3 linked regions of the Homo sapiens genome follow. The protein of the gene in region 2 purifies or fractionates together with the protein of the main gene of each other region. This does not show direct contact. Each region holds a gene or a part of one and is shown on either strand. Other genes may lie near its edges.

Region 1 (3,651 bases), on a different chromosome or scaffold from region 2:
AATGCTGGCATGGGAAAGAGCGGCTTTCTAGGAAACCTAGGCAGGAGTGCCACATTTCCTGATAGCGAAACGGGTGTGGGGCCACACTCCAGGAATTCACAGTGGTCATTCTTCATCTTTTCACTTTATATAAAAACAGTGAATTTTTAATTGCTCAGCACTCTGAAGAGACATGGATACTCACACCCCAATTTTTCTGCTAGACTATTGCTATTATTATTTTTTCTAAATTGCATCTTTACTGTAAGCATTTTGTCATTCTCTAGAATTGCTTGAAATTCCTGATTCCACCTTACTCAGCTGACCCCTTTTCTGACCCTGACTCAACTGGTTATGGAGTGGTCATTTTGTGATGAGTCTGGTCACAGAAAAGCCATCATTAGCGGTAGTATTTAGAGTATTTGTTTGGAACAAACTGGAAAATGCTTACTGAGAAAGCTGGGGACTTGTCAGCTATTGGAGCTCGAAGAGAGCTGTGAGCTTGCTCTGGTCTGATCCTTCGCTTTATAGATGAGGAGCATGGGGCCAGCAAGTTTCCTGAGCCTCCAGGTCTGCTCTTCCTATACCCGTTTTAGGTGAAGTACCTCTGAATAAGACATCTTCGTGGAATTTGTTTTCTGTCTATAAATATGTATGGGATGAACTCATCACTGGCATTAAACAACTGAGTCTCAGTTCTTTATCTATAAAATGGGAATAATAATACTGCCCTCCCAGGGTTGTGAGAATAAAATACTGTGTTGCATGTGGAAATGCTTTCTAAACTGGAAAGTGATGCAATGCCTATGTCTTGGTTTGGGTATCCTTGAAGCAGAGCCTGAGACAGGATCCCAAGATGCCACAGGGGCCATTCCCCCATTCCCTAAAGGAAGGAACACCAGCCAGATACCAACAAGATTGGCCACTGTGGTTTACAAAGTATAGCAGAGGCTGGGTGTAGTGGCTCACACCTGTGATCTCAGCATTTGGGAGGCCAAAGCAGGTGATTGCTTGAGACCAGGAGTTCAAGACCAGCCTGGGCAACATGGTAAAACCTCGTCTCTACAAAAAATACAAAAAAATTAGCTGGGTATGGTGGAGTGCACCCGTAGTCCTAGCTACTTGGAAGGCTGAAGGAGTCTGGGGAGTTTGAGGCTGATATTGCGCCATTGCACTCCAGACTCGGCAATTGGAGTAAGACCCTGCCTCAAAAAAAAAAAAAAGGAAAGTATAGAAAAATATATTTAGAAAAGGTAAGAGAAGTTGAGTTCCCAGTTATCTAGAGGCAAGCTAATATGGATATTTTGGTATATATCTTTCCATTTTTTTATTATTAAAGAAAAAATTTTATAGTTTTAAATTTGTTTTTCTACATATTTATTATAAACTCAGCTATAATTATGTCTCATGACTTTTTCACTTTATATTATTATGTGAGCAGTTTCTCTTGTTATATTTTTCTAAAACAGCTTTATTTAGATATTATTCACAAAAAATGAAATTCTCCTTTTTAAAGTATACAATTCAGTTGTACTTGTTATATCCACAAAATTTTGCATCCATCACTGTTATTTAACTTTAGAACATTTTTATTGCCCCCAAAAGAAACTCCATAGCTAAGTCACTTCCCATTTCTCCTCTGGGCCAACATTCCCACTCCTGCCTCCACCTCCAGCCCCTGGAAGACTCTAATCTACTTTCTGTTTCTGTGGATTTGCCTGTTGTGGACATTTCATATAAATGGAAATATAGGGTATGTGGTCTTTTGTGACTGGCTTCTTTCACTGAGCATATGTTTTCAAAGTTCAGCCATGTTGAACATGTTGCCTGTAAAATTTCCTCTGTACTACCAAGTAATATTCTTCTTTTGGATGTACCGCATTCTGTTTATCCATTCTTCAGTTGATGGATGTTTGGGTTGGTTCCACTTTTTGGCTATTTTGAATAATGATGCTATGACCATTTGTGTACAAATTTTTGTTTGAACATAAGCTTTCCAGTTTTTTATACCTAGGAGTATATACATAGGTATTATGTTAGGCCATTTTTGCATCACTGTAAAGAAATACCTGGCTGGGTGCAGTGGTTCATGCCTGTAATCCCAGCACTTTGGGAGGCCAAGGCAGGAGGATTGCTTGAGCCCAAGACTAGCCTGAGTAACATAGTGAGACTCTGTCTCTACAGAAAATTTAAAAGTTAGCTGGGCATGGTGGCACAGGAAGTGTGGCAATGGCATCTGCTTGGCTTCTGGTGAGGTCTCAGGAAGCTTATGGTCATGGCAAAGGGGGAGCTGGCGTATGTCACATGGCAAGAGCATGCCACACTCTTTTAAACAACTAGATCTTGTGTGAACTCAGAGTGAGAACTCACTTATTATCATGAGGACAGCACCAAGACATTTTTGAGGCATCCGCCCACCTGACCCAAATACCTTCCACCAGGCCCCACTTCCAACACCGGAGATTACATTTCAACATGAGATTTGGAGGGGACATATATCCAAACCATATCAGGTACATACCTAGGAATGGATTGCTGGGCCATATGGTAATGGTTTAACCTGTTGAGAAACTGCCAGACTGTTTTTCAAAGTGGCTGCACCATTTACATTCCCATCAGCAGTGTATGAGAGTTCCAACTTTGCAATATCTTCAACAAAACTTAATATTGTCTTTTTTTTTTAATAGCCATGCTAGTGGATGCAAGTAGTATTTCATTGTGGTTCTGACTTCCACTTTCTGTTGTTTTTCTTTTCTTTTTGAGACAGAGTTTTGCTCTTGTTGCCCAGGCTGGAGTGCAATGGTGCGATCTCGGCTCACTGCAACCTCCGCCTCCCAGGTTCAAGTGATTCCCTGCCTCAGCCATCCTAGTAGCTGGGATTACAGGCGCGCACCACCACACCCAGCTAATTTTTTGTATTGTTAGTTGAGATGGAGTTTCACTATGTTGGCCAGGCTGGTCTCAAACTCCTGACCTCAGGCGATCCACCCGCCTCAGCCTCCCAAAATGCTGGGATTACAGGCGTGAGCTACTGCACCCAGCTTGACTTGCACCTTCTTAGTGACTATGTTGAGCATCCCTTCATGATTGGCCATTTGTATATCTTTGAAGAAATGTCTATTCAAATCTTTTGTCCACTTTAAAATTGTTACTTATCTTTTTATTATTGTGTTGTAGAAGTTCTTTAGATATTCTAGTTATAAGTTCCTTATCAGATATATGAATTGTAGATATTTTCTCACAATTTGTGGGTTGTCTTTTCAGTTGCTAAATGGTGTCTTGAAGCACAAGTTTTCAAATTTGATGAAATTCAATTTATCTGTTCTTTCTTTTGTTGCTTTTGTGTTGTGTGTCATATCTAAGAAACCATTGCCTAATCCAAGGTCACAAAGATTTACTCCTGATTTTTACTCCTACGATTTTTGTAATTTTAACTCCTGCATTTAAATTTACAACCCATTTGAGTTAATTTTATGTGTGATATTAGGAAGAGGTCTAGTTTCATTCTCTTGCATGTGAATAGCCAGTTGTTACAGCACTATTTGTTGAAAAGACTTTTTCACCATTGAATTGTCTTGGTACCCTTTGAAAGAAATCAGTTGACCATAAATGTGAGAGTTAATTTTCCAGACTCTCAGTCTATACCACTCATCTTGATTTCTATCCTTAAAG
Region 2 (3,751 bases):
ACCGGCGACAATAGGGCATTGAGTGGCTATGCATGGTGAGGCTGGGCTACCACGTGGTGCTGACTGAGCCTCCTACTTCTGGGCCCTTCTTCAATGCAGGGTCCTCCTGGTCTTAATTTGTCACCTCTCTTCCTCCCAGCCTGTCCCCATGATACATCTCTGCCCCAGGGCTCGCTCACTGGAGAACCTAGGTCCTCAAGGCCCTTGTGTGACCTCTGACCACACCCTCTTTCCCTTTGTGCATTAGTTTCCTTTTTCAAATGAGAGAACCGATCAGAGGACGCTTAGGAGATGCTGGACTGTTGCGGGAGTTCTGAGGTCCTCAGGAGGCCACACTCCAGTTCCCAGACCTGGGTGAACAGCACGAGGCCCAGAGAGGGAAAGGAACGGCCTGAGGTCACACAGCAGGTGAGCCAGGCCTCCGGGACCTCATTTCTCAGAGCCAGGTGGGCGGGTCCCAGGGTCCAGGAGGGGAGAGGCTTAGGCATGGAGGGAGCGCCAATCATGCCCCCACCCCCAGTGCTAGCCACGACTCGAAAAAGGGGCCCGGAAAGAGACACAATGCACAGAGACACACACGCAGAGACGGAGAGATAGGAAGAGTGGAAGAGGGAGGCCCAGGCGCCGGGACCAGACAAAGGACGCGCGGCGGCGCGGGGAGCGGAGTCGCGCGGCAGGGGCGGGGGTGGAGCCGGGGTGGGGCTATAACTGGCCAGCCCCGCCCCCGGGATACGCCCGGGCTGCCGAGTGGGAATCCGAGGGCTCGGGCGAGGCCGGGCCCCCGGGGCCCTGGGGGCGGGGCCTAGATGGGCGTGCCCGGGCGTGGCCAGGCAGGGCGTGGCAGGGCGGGAGGGGCTGCGCGCTCGGGAGCTGACCAGCTCCGTGGCTGCTGAAAGCACCGAGCGCGGGGCTAGCGGTGCGGGCGAGCAGGCGGGCGGGCCGCGCTCAAGGTCACCTCGCGGCCCAGAGCCTTGGCGAGGTGGGGAGCCTGGACCTGGCCTAAGGGGGCTGTCTCGGCCTCCCACCCCATCTCCCGGGGGGCGGAGACCCGGGAGCCCAGAGGTGCCCCCCCAACCCGCGGGCCCTCCTCTCCCCTCCCCCTCCCCGCAGCCCGAGGCGCCCGCGCGAGGCTGCGGCCCGCGAAGAAGCGCCGAGAAACAAAGGGACGCGGCAGCAGCGGCGGCGGGCCCGCGGGGCCTCCGGGCGCGCCCCCTCCTCTCCCCTCCCCGCTTGCCGCAAGGTCGACGGGCTCGAGGACGAGACGCCCGCCTCCCGGGTGCGGCCGAGGCCCGGGGCGCGCGATCCGACGCCACCCGCTTTCCCAGGGCTCTCGGGGACGCTTTGTCGCTTTGGCTTGGCCCAGCACCAGTGATCGGGCCCTGCGTTTGCCTGGGCGGCCTGCGGGGTCTGGGCCTGGATGGAGGAAGCATCCTTAGCCGCCGCGGCCCCTCCCCCATCAGGCCTGCTGGAGAGGGGGCAATCCCGCCTCCAGGGCGGCGTCGGACGCCTCCCGAATCGCAGTCAGTCTCCCTAAGGCCCTCTCAGACCAAGCTCTAAGCGCCCTCAGCACTCTGGGCGCGGCCCTGCCCACTCTCAGGCCCCGAGGCTTGGTCCTACCCCCCCAACCCGGGCCTAGCTAGGCCTGGTCCTACCCCCCCCGCCGCACCCGCCCAATCTCCGCGGAGCCTGGGCCCAACTCCTCCCCGTCCCGATTCCCTTTCGGCGACAGGGGAATACCTACAGTGACCATTCTTGTGTGCCCGGCGGGCGCGGTCCGTGTTGAGGGGGGCTCCGGGGGTGGTGCACTCCTAGGGGGGCGCCCGATGCTCACGCTGGGGTCCCGCCCGGGCGGCCTCTGGTGCGGCCGCTGCAGATGTGGCGATGAAGGCGGCGGCTCCCTCGAGGGCCAGGGACGGGCCCGAACCCGGGGATGCGCGCGCGGATGGCCGGGCCCCGGGGTGGCCTGCGGGCGGCAGGGGATGGAAAGAGGGAGCGGGCGCGGGGTTGAGGACGCCCCCTGCGCGGCCCCGCGGGGCCCGGGGAGGTTGCGCTTCCCGACAGAGATCGCGGCGCTCTGCCTTTCGCCGCCGCCCCTCGGTCGGTCCTGTCCGGTCCCGTGTGTTCAAGTCCTCTCCCCTCGCCCACCCTCCCTCCCTCCCTCCGGCCCGCGCTGCGCGCTCCGCGCTCTGGACCGCGCCGCCGCCGCCCCCAGCCCTTTATAGCAGCAGCTGCCAGCGCCGGCGTCGCTCATTGGCTGCGGCGACCGAGCTCCGCCTCCTCGCGGCTCCCGACGGCGCGGCAGGTGGAAGTGAGCGCGCACTGGTCGGGACTCTGAATCCCCCAAAAGCGCATCCTAGGTGCTCGGGTTGCCAGATTTGGGCCCTCCTTCCCTCGAGGCCCTTGCTTCCTACCCTGGCACCCCTTCTTGGGCTGGCTTTCGGGCCAGGAGACGGGCTCCCCTCCTCCGTCCAGCTCCTAGAGCTGGAGGAGCCAACAGAGCGAGGAGGTATTAGTGGCCTGAATATGCGACCTTCCAGAGGTGTTGTCCACTGAGGGAACTGGACAGGGGATCAGGAACCAATATTTTAGTAGGCAGAGGCCTGGGTCCCCAGATTTGGAGGCACCAGTGTAGACCACCTCAAGACCACGGGGGAGGGTGGCTACTGTGGCCCTAGTCTTCTGCAGAAGGAGACTGGGACGCTGTTGGTTTTGAGTGAGCTGGATCCTTCTAGGGTTCAAAAGGTAAGGACTGGCACTCCCCAGTGCAAGGAAACTCCGCACTGCTCCGAAGGGGGTGAAAAGGTTTGGGGCTCAGTGTTCTGGACAATCATCGCTGGAGCCATGCAGCTCTGGGAAACCACGGATCCTTCTTGGACCCCACAGAACTGGGGTGGGTGGATCTGCCACATAAATGTCCTGGCTTTCTAGGCTCGTGATTGGTCCTCCTGACTGTGGAGTCATGCTCGCTCTCTGCTAGGGGGAACCTGGCCTCTCTCTAAGGCGTTGGGGGTGGCGCAGCCTCCTTTGGTGCGCGGGCGCCGGTGCATGTTTACGTCGGGGCGCGGGAACTAGCACACACTGGGGCGGGGTCGCCAGGGCGTGAGGCTTCAGCACCACAGACAGCAATCCGACAGTCCGGTCGAGGGCGCTGCCGGCGAGGTAGCCCAGACCCCCTAACTGGAGAGCGGCAGTCCCCACCCAATCCTCGTTCCTGCACGCCCTTTAGGCTCCAGACTGTCAGAGAGCGCCACCAGCGAGGAGAGCCTAATTTGCCCAATCAGGGGCGGCCCTTGAGATAACCAGTTACTGGAAGATGCCCTAGAGATCGAGCCAATGGGAGTGCGCGCACCAGGGGATGCTGCCACGCCTGGAAAGGGCAGGCCAATCGCAGTGGCCCGCGCAATAGGGGCGGTGGCGGTGCAGATCCCCGGGTGGCCCCTCTTGGGCTCGCCGGGGCGACCTGGCTGCGGGCGCTAGGGGCCCCAAGCGATGGTCTGTTCCCCACCCCGTGTTCCTCCCGGTTTCCGTCATCGGAAACTGAGCTAGGAGGGGGGCTGCTCCTGGGCGCGCGGACCCCGCTGCGGTTCCCATGGAAACCTGCCGGCTCCGGCAGTGCGGGGAGAGTGGAGGGGACCTGCCTCGCGGGGGGAGGGAGCTCGCGGGGGCGGCCCCAGCGGCCGGACTCGCTCATCCTTGCCGATTCTTCTGTCCCCGGCTGGGGTAGCCCCCCGGTCCGCAGCAGGAACTGAGG
Region 3 (3,651 bases), on a different chromosome or scaffold from region 2:
ATGTGAAGTAGTTATTACACTGTCATCTTGATTTGCATTTCTCTGATTATTAATGATGTTGAGTATTTTTCATGTTTTTTTTTTGTTTTTTGAGACAGAGTTTCACTCTTGTTGCCCAGGGTGGAGTGCAACGGCACAATCTCAGCTCACTGTAACCTCCACCTCCTGGGTTCAAGAGATTCTCCTGCCTCAACCTCATGAGTAGCTGGGATTACAGGCGCCCGCCACCACACTCAGCTAATTTTTTTTTTTTTTTTTTTTAGAGACGGGGTATCACCATGTTGGCCAGGCTGGTCTCGAACTCCTGACCTCAGGTGATCAACCCTTATCGGCCTCCCAAAGTGCTGGGATTACAGGCGTGAGCCACTGCACCTGGCCCTTTTCATGTTTTTATTACTCATTTGTATATCATTAGAAAAATGTCTATTCAAGTACTTTGCCCATTTTTAAATTGGGTTTGTACTTTTGCTGAATTTGTAGTTTTCAGTATTCTGGATATTAGGCCCTTATCGGACATATGGTCTGCAAATATTTTCTCCCATTGTGTAGATTATCTTTTAACTGTCTTGATAGTATCCTTTAATATACAAAATGTTTAAGTTTGATGAAGTTCAATTTATTTTTTCTTTTGCTGCCTGTGTTTTTGGTGTTTTCTAGTTTTAGCTCTTAAATTTAGTCACTGATCCACTTTGAACTAATTCTTGTATTTGGTGTAAGATAATGGTCCAACTTCATTCTTTTGTATGTGGATATGCAGTTTTCCCAATACCATTTGTTGAAGATTGTCCTTTCCCCAGTGAATCATCTTGGCACCCTTATCAAAAGTCAACAGACATCCAGATGCAGTGGTTCACGCCTGTAATCCCAGCACTTTGGGAGGCCAAGGTGGGCGGATCACTTGAGGCAAGGAGTTCAAGAACAGACTGGCCAACACAGTGAAACCCTGTCCCTACTAAAAATGGAATAAATTAGTTGAGTGTGGTGGCGCATGCCTGTAATCCCAGCTACTTGGGAGGCTGAGGCATAAGAATCACTTGAACCCAGGAGGCGGAGGTTGCAGTGAGCTGATATTGCACCACTGCACTCCAAACTGGGTGGCACAGTGAGACTCTGTCTCAAAAAAAAAAAAAAAAAAAAAAAAGTCAACTGAACATATATGCAAGGTTTTATCTCTGGACTTTCTATTTCATTGGTCTATATGTTTATTCTTTTGCCAGTGCCACACTGTTTTGATTACTGCAGCTTTGTAGTAACTGAAAGAGTTACTGAAGAGTCCTCCAGGTTTGTTCTTTTTTTAAAGATTGTTTTGGCTATTTGGGGTCACTTGAAATTTCTTAGGAATTTTAGAATGGGTTTTTCTATCTCTGTAAAACATGCCATTGGGATTTTGAAAGGGACTGCATTCAATCTGTAGATTGGCTGCTTTGGATAGTATTGTCATCTTAACAATATTAAGTCTTCCAATCTGTAAACACAGATGTGTTTCTATTTATTCATGACTTAATTTCTTTTAGCAATGTTTTGTAGTTCTCAGTGTATAAGTCTTACAGCTTCTTAAATTTACTCCTGTCTTTTATTTTTTGATGATCTTGTAAATGGAAATGTTTTCTTAATTTCTTTTTTTGGATTGTTCATTGCTAGTATATAGAAATACAACTGATTTTTATGTGTTGGTTTTATACCCTGTAACTTTGCTGAATTCATTTGTTAACTTTAGGGTTTTCTAAATACAAGATCATGGCATCTGAGGATAATTTTACTTCTTTCTTTCCAATTGCAATGTCTTTCATTATTTCATTTTCTTGCCTTATTACTACAACTTCCAATACTATGTGGAATTAAAGTGGAAAAACTGGGCATCCTTGTCTTTTTCTTGATTTTAGGGGAAAATCTTACAATCACTCACCATTATGACATTAGCTATGGGGTTTAAACATCTTTGTTTTTTAAATCTCTGGACTTTATCATGTTGAGGAAGTTCATTTCAGGTTTAGTGGTTTTATTTTTCATCATGAAGGAATGTTGAAATTTGTGAAATGCTTTTTCTGCATCAGTAAGATGATTATGTGGTTTTTGTCACTTCATTCTACTAATGTGATGTATTACATTGATTGGTTGTCATATGTTGTACTATCTTTGTATGCCAGGGATGAATATCACTTGGTTATAGTATGTAATCCTTCTATTTTGCTGCTGACTTTGGTTGCTAGTATTTTGTTATATAGCAAGATGTTTTAGCTTGTGTCTTTGATGTGAGATTTCCATTACTAAAAAACTCATTTTTTATCAAGACTGATGAGATCTATCTACCAATTAATGGGGAAAACAGAGGACCAAGTCAAAGGACCTGACAGGAATGCAAATTTCTAAAGTTAGTGATATGGGTTGGATTTGTGTCTCCACACCAATCTTATGTTCACTGTAATCCCCAATGTTGAAGGTGGGACCTTCTGGGAGGTGACTGGATCATGGGGGCAGTTTCTAATAGTTTAGCACCATATTCCCCCTTCTGCCAAGATTGTTGATATGGTTTGGCTGTGTCCCCACCCAAATCTCATCTTGAATTGTAGTTCCCATAATCCCCACATGTTCAAGGGTGGGACCAGGTAGAGATAATTGAATCATGGGGGCGATTTCCCCTATACTGTTCTTGTGATAGTGAATGAGTTCTCACGAGATCTGATGGTTTTATAAGGAGCTTCCCCCCTTATGCTCATCACTTCTTCCTGCTGCCATGTGAAGAAGGACGTGTTTGCTTCCCCTTCTGCCATGATTGTAAGTTTCCCAAGGCATCCTCAGAAGCAGGGCAGTAGCCACTGTGCTTCCTCTACAACCTGTGGAACCATGAGCCGATTAAACCTCTCTTCTTTATAAACTACTCAGTCTCAGGTATTTCTTTATAGCACTGTGAGAACAAACTAATACAGTTAGTAACTTAAAAGTTACCAAAATGATCTTAGAATAATTAGTTGCTACCCAAAGGTAAAGAGAAATACTTTACTCTTAAACTTACACGATATTAATTATATACTCACCACATATGAACTAAAGAAAAACAAATGAATACCTAATTAAAAAATGATTAAACTATTAATACTACCTTTAAAATGTATTATTACAAAAGATATTAAGTCTTCAGTCATTTGTTTTAAAACAAAAATCATATCACTACCTTAAATGTTTTATAAAAAGCAGCATCCAATGCTTTCAAAATTTCTTCATCAGGGCGCCACTTCAGTTTCCCTCTGAGACCATGACCTGTCTTGTAAGTTTCTAATGCGATCAAAATATGAAATGGATGTATACGAGCCTAGAAACAAAGTATAAGGAAAATTTTAGCAAAAAACAGTGATTATGTATACTCCTTAGATTTTTGTGTTATTGTAGCTAATAACTACATTTCATATAGAAAAGAGAAAAATGAAAATGTATTAAACTTACACTTAAGAGCCATAATGCAATTTGGTATAATGAACATCTCGAAATACCTTAAAAATGCACTGACGGCATTTCTAAAATTTAGGAGCCACTTTCTCAGTTAGTAGTAGCTAATAAAGAACAATGATAATGCTTACCTTTTTTAATAGTTTTTCATTACACAGTTTTTCACATACTAAAGATACTTCTGAATTTCCTGGTTCAAGTACTGAA

What was found.
Region 1: the proteins of ELAVL3 (region 2) and CRTAP purify together in Homo sapiens (affinity purification with mass spectrometry, with the first as the bait; one large-scale study listed by BioGRID). This does not show direct contact.
Region 3: the proteins of ELAVL3 (region 2) and RO60 purify together in Homo sapiens (affinity purification with mass spectrometry, with the first as the bait; one large-scale study listed by BioGRID). This does not show direct contact.

What each region holds. Positions count from the first base shown.
Region 1 is NC_000003.12:33,134,419-33,138,069, forward strand, and holds part of CRTAP (cartilage-associated protein isoform 1 precursor), read left to right. Parts: intron 1-3,651. UniProt on the Homo sapiens protein: Necessary for efficient 3-hydroxylation of fibrillar collagen prolyl residues.
Region 2 is NC_000019.10:11,478,859-11,482,609, forward strand, and holds the start of ELAVL3 (ELAV-like protein 3), read right to left. Parts: upstream 2,189-3,751; 5' UTR 1,751-2,188; coding exon 1,742-1,750; intron 1-1,741. UniProt on the Homo sapiens protein: RNA-binding protein that binds to AU-rich element (ARE) sequences of target mRNAs, including VEGF mRNA. May also bind poly-A tracts via RRM 3. May be involved in neuronal differentiation and maintenance.
Region 3 is NC_000001.11:193,076,572-193,080,222, reverse strand, and holds part of RO60 (RNA-binding protein RO60), read right to left. Parts: coding exon 3,576-3,651; intron 3,311-3,575; coding exon 3,173-3,310; intron 1-3,172. UniProt on the Homo sapiens protein: RNA-binding protein that binds to misfolded non-coding RNAs, pre-5S rRNA, and several small cytoplasmic RNA molecules known as Y RNAs.